Regions from separate parts of the Homo sapiens genome. Here region 2 is linked to region 1. A link means that fine-mapping ties the variant in region 1 to the expression of a gene that starts in the linked region. Tissue or cell type: whole blood. Region 1 holds a variant in brackets; the other region holds the start of a gene. All regions are shown on one strand. Distances are from middle to middle.

The links. PIP is the estimated chance that this variant, and not a neighbour inherited with it, causes the effect.
Region 2: LPL starts here. The variant in region 1 is fine-mapped to the expression of LPL in whole blood (TOPMed, PIP 0.99).

The regions. Positions count from the first base shown.
Region 1 is chr8:20,048,151-20,056,352 of GRCh38, forward strand. No RefSeq gene overlaps it. Among named protein-coding and RNA genes, the nearest start is that of LPL, 110 kb to the left of the region's middle. The variant T/C (reference allele first, on the strand shown) is at 4,631.
Region 2 is chr8:19,935,696-19,943,871 of GRCh38, forward strand. It overlaps LPL (lipoprotein lipase), which reads left to right and starts at 3,558. Exons shown (of 10, transcript NM_000237.3): 1 at 3,558-3,833. The coding sequence starts at 3,746.

The DNA.
Region 1 (8,202 bases):
AAGGAGTCGAAAATGGAAAAAAAAAAAAAGCCTTCATCCTAGTAACAAGAACTTATAAACTCAGAATGGAAATAGAAATGTCAAAATTTATTATTTCAGCCTCAATGAGACGTTCATTGGGTTCAAACCAGATTACTACAGGTTCACTTGTAAAAGAGCTTTGCAAAGCACCTTCTACCTTTAGTTTCTTCATTTACTAAACAGAGATAACATTTACCTTACCTCAAGAATGTTGCAAATTTCCCAGGGTGCATCAGATATGAACATTTTTTTATATTGTATTTTAAATTTTGGAGACGGGGGCTTGCTCTGTCACCCAGACTGGAGTGCAGTAGCACAATCCTAGCATACTGCAAACTTAAGTCCGTGGGCTCAAGTGATCCTCCTTCCTCAGCTTCCTGAGTAGCTGTGACTACAGGAGCACACCACCACACCAGCCTCCGGCTAATGTTTTGTTTTGTTTTGTTTTGTTTTGTTTTGTTTTGTTTTAAAGATATGGGGTTTCACTGTGTTGCCCAAGCTGGTCTCGAACTCTTAGCCTCAAGCAATCACTGCCTTGAGCCCAGGAGGCTGAGGCTACAGTGAGCTGTTACTGTGAGATGTTCACACATACATGCATACACACACGTTAATGTGGAAAGGAAACCACTTCAATTATCCCATAGAACTGATGCTTATGGTTTCTTTTGAATAAACATAGAAATTGACCCTCCCAGTCTTAAAACTTGAGAAAGTTACACTTATCTGAGTTCCTTTCTCAGGAAACTAACCATCAGGACTCCCAGATAGTATCAGGGAACTGAAACTTACCAGATTATCACATCTGGACAATGAGAAGCCAGACCCTTCACCCACCACGACTGCCTGACCACCTGCTTCCTATTGACCAATTCCTCTTCCTTACCACCCGCCCCACCCCCATTCCTGTTTTCCTGCATATCATTACATTCCTTCCCTGCTATATAAAACATTGATTTTAGTGGGTCCGAGAGAAGAATTTGAGACTGATCTCCCATCTCCTTGACCGCAGCATATTAAAGCCTCCTTCCCTGGCAATACTCATTGCCACAGTGATTGGCTTTCTGTGCAGCAAGTAACAGAACCTAGACTGAAACCCTGGCATTTCAGTAACAGAACGAGTGCATGATGTATGTGTAGGTATGGCTACATAGTTTATTTGTATATTTATTCATTTCATTCACACTTCGATTGTATGTGGCTATTAAGTTTCACCAGTGCTTCTTAACTTGCCTTAGGTGATTGCTGGTGGAATGATAGCGTAACATTTACTCAGAATTTAAAATAGAATTTACTCCCAACAATACCCCAGAAATTTATCCTTAAAAACTCTGTTCTTCGAATGTGTGGGGAGACTGATATGAGTAATAATAAAACTCCAGTCTCCCACACAGCCGGCTCTGTGTGAATTACTCTTTCTCTATTGCAATTCCCCTGTCTTGATAAATCAGCTCTGTCTAGCCAGTGGGCAAGGTGAACCCATTGGGTGGTTACAGGATTTGTTCTGTGACACTCTCTTTGGTACCCCCAGTATTAGTCTAGGGTAAGAATGAACTTCAAACTACAATTTAGACTCTGCTTCTTAGTTGGAAGTCTGCAGGGCCAGATGGAGACCACCATACAATTGGTCAGAAAAAGATAAGCCAAGGGTGCATGTGAAGCAAGAGAGAGATTTAAAAAAAAATCCCCCTTCAAAATGAGCCTGTTATGCAACAAAACCAAAGACATTTAATAAAATAGCCAACAGACCCAAAAACTCAGAATAGGAATTTGCTCTAGATGAAATTTACTTCCTGGAGCAGTATGAAAATGACTTTAAAATAAGGATGTTATGTAACTAACCTGCACATTGCGCACATGTACCCTAAAACTTAAAGTATAATAATAATAAATAAATAAATAAAATAAGGAAGTTTATGATGTTCAAAAGAGATAAGCAAAGACAAATTTGCATTAAAAATAACATATAATTGCTTTTAAGAACAGCAAAGAAGGATATGAAAATTAAGTCTTAACATTAAAATGTTTTTGTAATAAATTTAGATGTTAATAGACCAATGTTAGTAATAGTTAATATTTTTTATGCCAAGAACTATTTTCCATGCTTCATATATATATTGGCTCTCTTAAGATTCATAAACACTAGGAGTTAACTATATTATTCCCATTTTACACATGAGGAAACTGAGATCCAGAGAAGCCAGTAACTTTCCAAGCCCAATAGATAATGAATAGAAGTGGAATTTGAATCTAGACAAGCTGGTAGCAGAGCTCTTAGCTTTAAAATAACATCCTAATGCTGCCTATGCTTAAGTCTTGAATGAACAGTTGAAGAGAGAATTTGTGAAATGGAAGATTAGAGAAGTGAAATAAATCTAAACTGAAGATGGCACAGAAAGACAAAGAAATAAACAAGTAAATAGCAGCTCTAAGACACTTTGAAAGGCATTCATTTCCAACACTGGACTATCAGGAGCTCTGGCAGGACAGAATGAAAGAAATGATGGAGAGGCAGTATTTGAAGAATTAGTTAATGAGAATTTCCCAAAATTAAATAAATATGTGAATTTTCAGATCGAAGGTGCTCAGGACTGGGCAGGATAAAACGTAGAGCATTAGAGATAAAGAGAATCTTAAACACTCTTTAAATAAAGGGTAAATTACCCACAAAGAATTGAATGTAGAGCATACTTACCTACAATAGATGACAATAGAGTAATATTTTACAGTGTTAAGGGAAAATAATAGTAAACAGGATGTGCGCCCAGCAAATGTATCACCAGAGTGAAGGCAAAATAAAGGTATTCTCAGATATAAGATGCAGAAGTAATAAAGAGAATTCATCAGCTAATCACAAGTGTTCTAAGAAGGAAACAGAGGGAGATTTGATGACATATGAACAAGGAGAATGCAATAAAGGTAATGGAAGCAGAAATTGGAGTCATGGGGCCACAAGCTAACTAATGCTGGCAGCCACCAGAAATTGGAAGACGCCAGGGAGAATTCTTCCCTAGGGCCTCTATAGGGAGTTCAGCCCTGCCTGCATCTTGATTTTGGACTTCTAGCCTCTAGAACTGTGAGAAAATACATTTCTTTTGTTTTAAGCCACAAAGTTTATGCTAATTTGTTATGGCAGCCAGAGAAAACTAATACACCTCCTAAATTACAAACAAAAACAACAAAACAAAGCTTGAAAACAAACAACAAAAATAGAAATATTTCTATAGCTTTGAAAGAGCAGAGGTAAAAAGAAGTCCATGCATAATAGCAACAAATATGATAATGGACAAGTGAATAAAGCTAACAGATAAACAAGTATGAAAGACCTCAGTGGAGAAAAATCCAAACTACCATTAAAATAAATAATAGAAGACAGACCTGAGCTTTTTATTAAATAAATATAAAACGAAAAATATAATAAAAACTCAGTTCAAGACAGTGGTTACCTCTAAAGAAGGAAAAAGAGGAGGAAGTGAGAAAGATGGAATCAGGCCTTGACTGCATTTCTAATGTTTTATATCCTTTAAAAAAATCTGAAAATATCTGAAGCAAATATGGCAAAATATTAAGGGTCCTTTGAGTTCAGTGGTGGATATATGAATATTACATTATTCTCTGTTCTTATTTTTATATTTGCAATATTTAACAATAAAAATCTAAAAGAATAAAAGCAAAAATAAGTAAAATAAAGTGGGTCCCTTTCATAGCAAAGCGGAAAGAGTGTTCAAAAGATAGGCTTATCTCTTGCAGCTTGATTTCATTTTTTTCTAAGAGGCCTTGGAAGCTGTTGACATAAATAGGTTTACATTATTTTGACATCATCAAGGGCACTGGAATCTGGGCAGTGACTTCTAATGGAATTTGGCAAAGGCAGAACAATCATCTCTAAGCATGAGGGGAGGTGGAGATGCCAGAGTTGAGATATCATGTGTTCTCCTTTTACTTTGAAAGGGATTCAAAAACATAACTTAAATACTTTCAACAACTGTTTGTTGTTGTTGTGAGGTTTTTTTAACGCACTTCTTTTCAGATAACGTGGAAGGGATAGAGGCATTACGTGGACTGTGTAGTGACTGGAACCAGATGTGTGAGAAAGGAGAAATTGACTCAAACCAATGAGAGGTTGTATGACACGGCAGGACAATCTGGACCAGAATCAGGAAACTTAGTTCGAGTTTTAGCTAACTAGCTGCAAGGCATCTACAACTTTCTTTTTTTAAAAAAATTGTTTCATTTCTTTTTTTGAGACAGGGTCTCACTCTGTCACCCAGGCTGGAGTACAGTGGCACAATCACGGCCCACCACAGCCTCTATCTCCTGGGCTCAGGTGATCCTCCCACCTCAGGTTGCTAAGTAGCTAGGACTACAGACACCCACCACCATGCCCAGCTAATTTTTGTATTTTTTGTAGAGACGGGGTTTAGCCATGTTGCAGAGGCTGGTCTCGAACTCCCAGGCTCAAGCAATCCATCTGCCTCAGCCCCACAAAGTGTTAGGATTACAGGCGTGAGCCACGGCACCCAGCCAGTATCTACAATTTGTATCAACTCTCTTGGGTTTTCCCTTACCTATAAAATGAGGAAATAAGTTTAAATAATGACTGAGGTCACTG[T/C]GGGCATTAACATGCTATCACTAGCCCTTAGTGTGCCTTTTATACTTTAAATAAAACCACCTAAAAATACCTTATTTTTCTTGTTCCTAGGGCTCTTCAGTGATGAACGAAAAGTGAGGAGACTAGATCCTGAGACCGAATCACACTGTTTCTGCTTTTTAAATTAATTTTCTCATCATTGTCAGTTTTTTTTTTTCTTTTGAGACAGAGTCTCGCTCTGTCACCAAGGCTGGAGTGCAGTGGCCTGATCTCAGCTCACTGAAAGTGCCGCCTCCTGGGTTCACGCCATTCTCCTGCCTCAGCCTCCTGACTAGCTGGGACTACAGGCGCCCGCCACCACGCCTGGCTAATTTTTTTTATTTTTAGTAGAGACGGGGTTTCACTGTGTTAGCCAGGATGGTCTCGATCTCCTGACCTCGTGATCCGCCTGCCTTGGCCTCCCCAAGTGCTGGGATTACAGGCATGAGCCACCGCGCCTAGCCCGTCAATTTTTATTTTCATTGAGAGAATAAAAGTACATAAAAATTTCCCGGGATGACAACCTTCCATTCCTGAAAATTTGATCTCGTGACTTTTTTTTTTTATGAAGTTTTTTTTTTTTTTTAACTTTTATTTTAAGTTCAGAGGTACATGTGCAGGTTCGTTAGACAGGTAAATTGTGTGTCGCGGGGGTTTGGTGTGCAGATTTCATCACCCCAGTTAATAAGCCTAGTACTGATATGTAGTTTTTTAATCCTCTCCCTCCTCCCACTCTCCACCCTCAAGTAGGCGTCAGTGTCTGTTGTTCCTTTCATTATACAAAGTATTTTTGATATTTTAAAATTACATTAAGAAAAATCTCTAATACTTCTACCTAGAGATGAAAACATCTGAATAAGTATTATGAAAGAGAACCTGAAGTCATGGTTAGGTTAATAAGTTCAACTGCTTGTTCATGTATTGAGTCTTCACCAGAGGACATAACAGCCTACTGGATGGCTGTGGCAGAGACCAGTAATGCTCCCTGAATGGCCGCCTTTCCTTCTTCCTGTTGCTAATATAACCACCAGAGTTTTAGCTGGTCTGAATTATCAACACAGAACACTTTTGGTACCACCTGTGTGGGGATTTTCCCCAAGACAACAACTAAACAATCAATTCAGCAGTGAATATCAGCTGGGTGTCCTCTTAATTTTTCTTTTTTCTTTTCTTTTTTTTTTTTTTTGAGACGGGGTCTCACTCTGTGGCACAGGCTGGAGTGCAGTAGCGCAATCACAGCTCACTGCAGTCTTGAACTCCTGGGCTCAAGGGATCCTCCCACCTCTGCCTCCCCAGTAGCTGGGACTACAGGCACATGCCACCACACTTGGCTAATTTTTTGCAGAGATGAGGTCTTGCTATGTTGGCCAGTCTAGTCTAAACTCCCAGCCTCAAGTGATCCTCCTGCCTTGGGCTCCCAAAATGCTGGGATCATAAGTGTGAGCCACCCTGCCTGGGCCCTTTAATTTTACTCAATTCTGACATTGTCTACCTGGACATAGTGTCAGATCTCACAGGTTGAGGGCTCAGTCCCCAAGACTGTCTCCACTTCAAATGCCAGTTGCAAGTATAGGTTGTGACCTGTGTTTCTGCCCAGTCAGCTCTAAATTGGGGTTCCCATGATCCCCTCCTTGGGTTTGATTCGTTTGTTAGAGCAGCCCACATAACTCAGGGAAACACTTTACTTGCATTTTCTGTTTGATTTTAGAGGCTATTACTAAGGATACAGATGAATAGCCAGATGGAACAGGTGCATAGAACAAGGCATGGGGAAAGGGGCACAGGAGCGTCCATGCCTTCTCCAGTCATAATGAGAGGTGACAGCGTGCTGGCAGCCCTCGCAGCCCTCGCTCACTCTGGGTGCCTCCTCGGACTTGGCGCCCATTCTGGCCATGCTTGAGGAGCCCTTCAGCCTGCCGCTGCACCGCGGGAGCCCTTCTCTGGGCTGGTCGAGGCCGGAGCCGGTTCCCTCAGCTTGCGGGGAGGTGTGGAGGGAGAGGCACGAGTGGGAACTGGGGCTGCACACGATGCTTGTGGGCCAGTGCGAGTTCTGGGTGGGCGTGGGCTCAGCAGGCCCTGCACTGGGAACTGGGCAGTGAGGGGCTTAGCACCCTGGGCCAGCAGCTGCTGTGCTCGATTTCTCCCGGGGCCTTAGCTGCCTCCCTGTGGGGCAGGGCTCAGGACCTGCAGTCCGCCATGCCTGAGCCTCCCCCACTCCGCCGTGGGCTCCTGCGCAGCCTGAACCTCCCTGAGCGCCGCCCCCTGCTCCATGGCACCAGGTCCCATCAACCGCCCAAGGGCTGAGGAGTGCATGCACACAGCACGGGACTGGCAGGCAGCTCCACCTGCGGCCCCTGTGCGAGATCCCCTGGGTGAAGCCAGCTGGGCTCCTGAGTCTGGTGGGGACTTGGAGAACCTTTATGTCTAGCTAAGGGATTGTAAATACATCAATCAGCACTCTGTGTCTAGCTCAAGGTTTGTAAATACACCAATCAGCACCCTGTATCTAGCTCAAGGTTTGTAAAGACACCAATCAGCGCCCTGTGTCTAGCTCGGTGTTTGTGGGTGCACCAATCGGCACTCTATATCTAGTTAATCTGGTGGGGACTTGGAGAATCTTTATGTCTAGCTAAGGGATTGTTAATGCACCAATCGGCACTCTGTATCTACCTCAAGGTTTGTAAATGCACCAATCAGCACTCTGTGTCTAGCTCAGGGTTTGTAAATACACCAATCCACACTGTGTACCTAGCTAATCTAGTGGGGACGTGGAGAACTTTTGTGTCTAGCTCAGGGATTGTAAACGCACCAATCAGCACCCTGTCAAAACGGACCAATCAGCTCTCCATAAAACAGACCAATCGGCTCTCTGTAAAATGGACCAATCAGCAGGATGTGGGTGGGGCCAGATAAGAGAATGAAAGCAGGCTGCCAGAGCCAGCAGAGGCAAACCACTGGGGTCCTCTTCCACACTGTGGAAGCTTTGTTCTTTTGCTCTTTGCAATAAATCTTGCTGCTGCTCACTCTTTGGGTCCACACTGCCTTTATGAGTGTAACACTCACCACGAAGGTCTGCAGCTTCACTCCTGAAGCCAGCGAGACCACGAACCCACCAGAAGGAAGAAACTCCAAACACATCTGAACATCAGAAGGAACAAACACCGGACACACTACCTTTAAGAAATGTAACACTCACCGCGAGGGTCCGCAGCTTCATTCTTGAAGTCAGTGAGACCAAGAACCCACCAATTCCGGACACAGTAACACCCTACAGGAACCTCTACATGTTCAGCTATCAGAAACCTCCCAGAACCCAGTCCTTTGGGGTTTTATGGAAGCTTCATTATGTAGGCATGAATGATTAAATATTGGCCACTGGGATCAACTTAAACTTCAGCCCCACTTTTTTCCCCAGAGACTGGGAAGGGTGATGCAGGGTGGAGCCAAAAGTCCCAAACCTCTAATCATGCCTTGGTCTTTCTCCTGATCAGCCACTATCTTGAAGTGATCTAGGGGCTCTCAGCCACCAGTCATCTCATTAGTATACAAGATAC
Region 2 (8,176 bases), 110 kb before region 1:
ACTGTAAACTAGTTCAACCATTGTGGAAGTCAGTGTGGTGATTCCTCAGGGATCTAGAACTAGAAATACCATTTGACCCAGCCGTCCCATTACTGGGTATATACCCGAAGGATTATAAATCATGCTGCTATAAAGACACATGCACATGTATGTTTATTGTGGCACTATTCACAATAGCAAAGACTTGGAACCAACCCAAATGTCCAACAACGATAGACTGGATTAAGAAAATGTGGCACATATACACCATGGAATACTATGCAGCCATAAAAAATGATGAGTTCATGTCCTTTGTAGGGACATGGATGAAACTGGAAAACATCATTCTCAGCAAACTATCACAAGGACAAAAAACCAAACACCACATGTTCTCACTCATAGGTGGGAATTGAACAATGCAAACACATGGACACAGGAAGGGGAACATCACACACTGGGGACTGTTGTGGGGTGGGGGGAGGGGGAGGGATAGCATTAGGAGATATACCTAATGTAAATGACAAGTTAATAGGTGCAGCACACCAACATGGCACAGGTATACATATGTAACAAACCTGCACGTTGTGCACATTTACCCTAAAACTCAAACTATAATAATAATAAAATGTTTTAAAAATTCAATAGATTTTACAATATTTTTAAATAATTATGACTTTGTATTTATACATTTTATTTGTATTAGTATGTTTTCTTACATTAATTATACTTTTTATAAGGACAAGATCCGACTCAGTACTGATGTTCTTTAGAGCCTACTTACACATTTCATTGTATTTTACTTTAGTAAGAAAGCCACAAAATAAAAATCTACATTAAAATATGTGTGTACAAAAAAAATCTGATTCCCAGCCTATTCCTGTTTGCAATTGCTGCAACATTAAAATATAGCACATCAAATACATATTTGCTTCTCGGCTAGGATCGCCAAAGAAAAAACATCTTATGATTTGTGGTTGCTGTTATTTAATCTTCCCTGAGCTTCATCTTCCCTCATCTGTAGAAGGGGAATATTATTGAGTTTGGAGTGCTTTTGTAATGATTAAACACAGTAGAAGATGAAAAGTGCCCAGTGCAATTAGCAGGCCTTCAATCAAAATAAGCAAGCTAGCTAGCTAGCTGGCTGGCCAGCTAAATAATGCTTCCCTACATCCAGAATTTCCAGTTGTTTCATTAGATATGCACATTCAAGTTTTTACTTAGGTAATTTTAAATGTGTCCCAGTGGCAAGTGTCCTGCTAAAGGGGTACTGTTAGCTTCTTCTCACCTAAAACTTAGTTTGTTACAAAGGAAATGCCAATTATGGAAAAAGTCAAGCCTTGAGCTACTGAAGGCCGAGTAACCTCGCCAAAGTTTGGATGAGTCGCTTCACTAATGCACATGCAATCCTGACCTAGAGATCATGTGAGTTTCTGCGTTAGAAGGCGGGCACCTGATGGCTCCCAGTGCAGCCAATCAGGAGAGAACGTTGCCGCCACACCCACCTGCTCCGCGCTGGCCCTGGGAGAGGAGCCAACCTGTCTTGCTTTTTTTTTTTTTTTAACCAGGCTAAGCTGCTGTAAATTAAGTCTTCCTGGAAATCTCAGCAACTCTATTGGACGTGCTAATGGCACAGTTCACTCCAAACTGGATTCATATTTAAATATTACATATCCTCCAACTCTTGAGTGCTTTAATTTTGTTATCTGGTTAGCCTGGGAAATCATTTTAAAAATACGCTATAAGTATCAGACTTTCCCTTAGCAATTATATAAAATCTCCTTGCAGTTTTCTGAAAGGCACAGAAGTGCAGTTTGATTTGGTTGTCTTATCAAAGGACATTTATGCATGAAAATAGGCTGCAGGAGTATTCTATATAAGATAGCAGGCAGTTCTGCACGTCTGTTTATATGCCATTCACACCATGAACACATCCAATGCAATTGTATTCATCTTCTGTCATTTTTTAAAATTAGAGTTTACTACATGATTTTTGGAGGACGGCCATATCATAGTTATTCATCCCTTGCATGGTCTGTTCTGCCACTTCTAAAGTTCTGCGAAGTTTAATTTTTGGCAGGTTTCAAGATTCTCTACATACTTTGTAGGTTAGAGTGAACGTGCACAGTATATTGTGTAATAATTGCAATACAAGACGGTGTGTTGTGTTGTGGCACGGAATGCATCAACTTAAAGATAGAATTGTTATGCAGAATAGAGACCTTTGAAATATTTGGGTATTATCAACTTTTATTTCATTTTTTGAGAAAAACTTAAAAAGTGAGCCCAGTTTTTTAAAAAGCATTTCATTGTTCTAACCTACAATTGTGCATTGTATGTTTGTGTGTGTGTGACGGAGGGTGGGATGAATAAAAGGGGACATTAAAAATATTCAGACCATAAATATAGTAGATTGGAGGTTCTGATTTGATGAGCCAGTTTCTCAGCCATAAACTGAGAGGGGGTTGGGGATACACTTCATTGTCCTTCCTGGCTAATGTAAATCCCTTATATTTAAAAAGATATTTAAAAGTATTCCAAGCATTTTGGCAGAAAAGCATAGTATCTAATGTTATTTTTTTCTTATTTTATGTGCATGCCTCTTATCCATTTAAAAATAGCTTTACTGACCTATAATTTACACACTATATAATTCTCCCATTGAAAGTGCATAATTCTGTTGCTTTTAGTATATTTACAGAGTTGTGCAGCATCAGCATAATGTAATCTAGAACATTGTCATCAACTACCCCCAAATCTCTATTCTTCCCTTCCCCTATTAATTACCCAGCCCCAGGCAAGCACTGATCTACTTTTGGTCTCTATGGATTTGTCTATTTGTGGACACTTTAAATGGAATCATACAATATGTGTCTTTTGCGACTATCTTCTTTCACTTATCATAACTCAATACGGCTTTAGATTATTTGACCTCGATGTTCTGCCTCTGAACATAAAATATTATCCTTGCATTCCTTGATGAGTTTGAGGATTGAGAATAATTTGCATGAGACAAAAATTAGAAACTAGTTAGAGCAAGTAGGCTTTTCTCCATCACATAAGCTGATCCATCTTGCCAATGTTAAAACACCAGATTGTACAAGCACAAGCTGGGACGCAATGTGTGTCCCTCTATCCCTACATTGACTTTGCGGGGGTGGGGATGGGGTGCGGGGTGAGTGAGGGAGGACTGCAAGTGACAAACAGGATTCGTCAAAAGAGAGGTGTATTAAAGTGCCGATCAAATGTAATTTAACAGCTAAACTTTCCCTCCTTGGAAAACAGGTGATTGTTGAGTATTTAACGTGAATCGATGTAAACCTGTGTTTGGTGCTTAGACAGGGGGCCCCCGGGTAGAGTGGAACCCCTTAAGCTAAGCGAACAGGAGCCTAACAAAGCAAATTTTTCCGTCTGCCCTTTCCCCCTCTTCTCGTTGGCAGGGTTGATCCTCATTACTGTTTGCTCAAACGTTTAGAAGTGAATTTAGGTCCCTCCCCCCAACTTATGATTTTATAGCCAATAGGTGATGAGGTTTATTTGCATATTTCCAGTCACATAAGCAGCCTTGGCGTGAAAACAGTGTCAGACTCGATTCCCCCTCTTCCTCCTCCTCAAGGGAAAGCTGCCCACTTCTAGCTGCCCTGCCATCCCCTTTAAAGGGCGACTTGCTCAGCGCCAAACCGCGGCTCCAGCCCTCTCCAGCCTCCGGCTCAGCCGGCTCATCAGTCGGTCCGCGCCTTGCAGCTCCTCCAGAGGGACGCGCCCCGAGATGGAGAGCAAAGCCCTGCTCGTGCTGACTCTGGCCGTGTGGCTCCAGAGTCTGACCGCCTCCCGCGGAGGGGTGGCCGCCGCCGACCGTAAGTTTTGCGCGCAAACTCCCCTCCACCTGCAGACCCGGCGGGTGGCCACTGCCACCCGAACTGAGGATGAGAAGAAGGAAGTTGGAAGGGGCGGTGGATGCGCCCAGGGACTCTCCCAGCCTGGGCTCTAGCCCCGAAACGGTCCCCGGAGTGGGATCCAGGAGGGGCCGGGAGGGAATCTCCTCCCGATCGTGAAGCGGCGGCGCCCAGTTCCCGCTTTTTCTCTCTGCCGGGTTCCCGCGCTATCCCTTCCACTCTGGCTGGGACCGCGTTCCCGGGCTCGCAGGCTCCGCCGGGGAGGTTCCGGGGTGTGGGGGCCGGGACGGCGGAGGCGGGGAGTAAGGGCCCGGCTGGCGGTGACCTGCAGTCACCTCTCTGCCGGAGGGGCCCTGGAATGAAAGGCGCGCGGGCCAAGGTGACCTCGCCTTGGTTGGCACTGCGGCTCAGCCCCCGCCCGGGGACTCGCGGGCCGACTGTGGCCCCTTCTGGGGAAGCCGGGGCGCGGGGAGGCGTTCCGGGCATCTCAGCCGCACGGGGTACGCTCGCCCTCGGCGGGGCCCCTCGCTCCGCTGTGGGAGTGGCAGTGGGTGTCGGGGTGGAGAAAGTACGCGTGGCGCGGAGTCCTGGGGACGCGGCGTCCCACCCGCTCTGGGGAGCCCCGGACTCTCTCCAGCTTCCAGGCTCGCATGCCCCTCTTTTCTTAGTGCCCTGAGAACCCAGCGAGGGGCTGACCCTCCCGAAACCGTGGCGCAGCCACCAGCAATCTGTGGTCGCCGACTCGGGGGGTTGCCAGGTCTGCGTTTGGCCACCCTTTCTGTCCTGGGGGCTGAGGTCAGCTCCGGGCGCCCGGCCCCGCCGCGCGGCTGCGAGCACGTGGGGTTGACGGGCGCCGCGTGGAGGCAGCGAGCACAACGGTGGTCACCGCCGCCAGGGAACCGCCCGCTCGCTGGGGTCCAGGCGTTCGGGGCCAAATGAGAATGTCTCAGACCTGTCCGCAATGGAGGCAGCCTGCTTAATTCGAACCTCGATTCAGTAAACATGCAACAGCAGCATAGAGAGCAGCTGAAGCCATTCATAACACGGGACAACATTTCCTTTTTTCTTCCATGCTGGAATTGCAATTAGGGCGGTGTCGCTTGGATGTGCTCTCAGGCGGCACGTCCCCAGCGGTTCAAGTTATAATAGAGTCTCTCCATAGCTTTGATGGCCGCTAAACGTTTGTTTTATTTTGGCATTAATTTGTGAAACATTTTTGTTAGGTTAAAAAACAAAAAGTTGGCAGGGAGCAGTGGCTCACCCATGTAGTCCCAGCACTTCGGGAGGCCGAGGCCGGAAGACAGCTTGAGCCCAGAAGTTCGAAATCAGCCTGGGCAACATAGGGAGACACCGTCTCTATAAAAAAAAAATACAAAAATTAGCCGGGCGTGGTGGCCTGTGCCTGTGGTCCCAGATAGTCAGCAGGCTGAGAGATCACTTGAGCCAGGGAGTTTCAGTAGACTGCAGTGAGCTGTGATTGCCCCACTGCACTTCATCCTGGGTGACAGTGAGACCCTGTCTCATAAAATTAAAACAAAACAAAACAAACACTAAGTATAGATTCCATCAAAGCAAAATTGGATAAGAAAAAAAGTATCTTTTCTATTGGATCAGTTTGAAAACACTGGAGAGTTGATGAGAAAGTCTTCAACATCTTAGGTGGGGTATGTTTCGTATGTTTCCCTTCGTACTGCTTAATGCTGACAAGAAGATGGTAGGAGCCAACTCCAAATTCTTATTTCAGAAAGCACACCATAGAATAACGTCATTTTCATTGCAAAACAAGCACCGAAATATGTCATCACATTCAAGTTTTTCCTAGGCTCCCTTACAGGTTCAAGATCCTAAATTCTTGGGAGTCAGTGTCACCTCTCTGGGTTTAGGTTCCTCAACTCTGCAATGAGTTTGGATGAGGCCAATGTTCTCTGAGCCTGGTGTAACTCTTGCCTCTTTAAGTGGACACTTATGTGATTAATTAGTTTAATTGAGTTGTAGCCAACACATGCTTTTCCTAGCTGTAAATATATTAAGGAAGGATTATTTCCAAGTAGACTGGAAACGATGCCCTCCCATCCCCTCCACTTTCACTCTACTCACCCAATATATCATGCCTCTCCCATCACAGCAACTTTCTCCCTCTTTCTCCTCCAGATGCATTCATCTAGGAAGGTAAGAATTTCAGGGAGAGAAAGATGTCACCGTGGTAGAAAGACAGGGATCACCTCCTCTGGGCTCTTGAGTTTACTTATTCATTCTGGATTCTTTCTAACAAGAATATGAGGACAAGAGGCACTGTCCTCAGGCACTTCGTCCTGGGAGCCACCACCATCTCTGCATGGCCCCAATTAGGAAACGTGAAGAGCTAGGAGAGGGAGAGTATGGTCAGTGCTTAGCAGCTGAAGTTCCACTTGCCTGGCCATCGTGAATTTCCAGGCTGTCTTCTGAGTTGAACATGATGGCAAAGGAGAGCAAAATAGCAGATGTCACTGAAGGAGAGCTCAGCGAGGGAGTGATTGATTAATAGCTGTATTGAAAGGTGGGAGTCAGGTACGGGGGAAGAGCGGCGATGGAAAATTTTCGCTTTCTTTCAGCAGCTTATTTTTAACTCAGCTTTCTGTTCTTGCTTTATTATGGAGGAAAAATTGGGCCATAGAGTTTACTGCCTTATGCCAGATTGTTCAAGAAAATGCCTTGCAACTTACAATATTTTGCAGCTAGTTTCTTCCGTGACCACCACAAAGACTGCATTGACTTAAATATGAAGATGTTCCAGCCATCAAAATGATGGTTGGTGATGATTTTGGATCACAAAGTGTAAGGAAAGTATTCAAGACATGAGTATCATGATTTTTTAAGGTCTGGATGAAGAGACCATTTGGATTTACTAATAAGGTAAATTCCAACTTTTATGGCAATAAAAACAACAAAAACACTTATCAGTGTAAAGCTTTGGGATCATCTATCCATTAAATGAGTTTGTCACCACAGTGAACTAAATACCTTTTATCAACAGAGACTTTCTAACCTGGGAGTAAAATTCTTGTCACAGTGCTTTTGTCACATTCTGTCTTTGCAAAAGTTGAAGGCTCCAATAGTTTCTGAAGGACTAATAGGATAGGGTTCCAACTTACTCAGAGGCTAAGAGTTTGAAATTTACTCTGAACGATGTCTGTTCACTAGACTGCGTGACTGCAGTTTGCTGTCTTGTGGCCATTTTAAGATTGTCTGTGTGCACTGACACCATTTGCGTACTCAACAACAGGTATCTACTAGGAAGGAAGGAATGGATTATCTTAGGTGCTATATATATATGTAAGTTCTGCCGGAAGTGAGCCTATTAAACTTGTGCCAATTCATTCCTTTTGCTCTTCCCAGTCTGTGCTCTCAGAATGATCAAATGCTATCTAAGTAGTGTGGTGATTTTGACTGTTTGAATGAATAAACGAAAACGTCTCCCACCATTATTTGACAGTAGAATAGAACAAAGATGACCCAGTTGGCGTGGCCACACTGTGTCTAATCCAGCCACCTTGCTCACAGCACTCAACCCACTTTGGTGTGTGCGCTCATCTGTATTTTCGTAAATGTTGAAGTCTCTTTCTATGCAGTCAGGTAGGGGTAATACCATTCTGGCTTGGATTAATTTGAGTGTAGTACAAAGTTTAGAGAAGCTTTTAAGTAGCATGAAAAGTCAGATGCTTTCGGAGGGATGGTGGTGAATGTAGGTAAATGGATCTGCACTTAGAGATCCTCAACAGCCCTTCATTCAAGATACAGCTATCATGACATCAATAATGTACCTTTGAAAAAAAATTGGCTGCAGAATTAATTACGGTGAAAAACAGTATAGGAGTTAGCACTTACATTTTAACTAAAAAGAATAGCGTCCCCATGTTTATTCAGCCCTCCCTCCAATAAAACAATTGTTGGCAAAGTAATCATGGACTTTCATTGTGTTAGTTTGAGACAACTGGATGTTTCCATTTGCCATCCTCAGCAACAAGAAGAAAGTAGTCTCAGATTAACCAGGTAAGTATTTTGTATTTCACTTAAAAAATCTTGACTGAAATATGCCTATGTGATGACACTCAACCAAATTATTTCATTAACCAGTCCACAAGATCTCCTTAAATAATGATGGCTTATTCACACTTGATGGTCTCATTCAGTGGGGCAATTTTAATACACATCTCTGAACCTATTTTTTAACCCCTCTTTTTCAGTAGTGTGGAAGGTTAGCCCTAATATTGGAGAAAATTCAGGGTAAAATTCAGATGATTCATACAGGATTTATTTTTCCTATT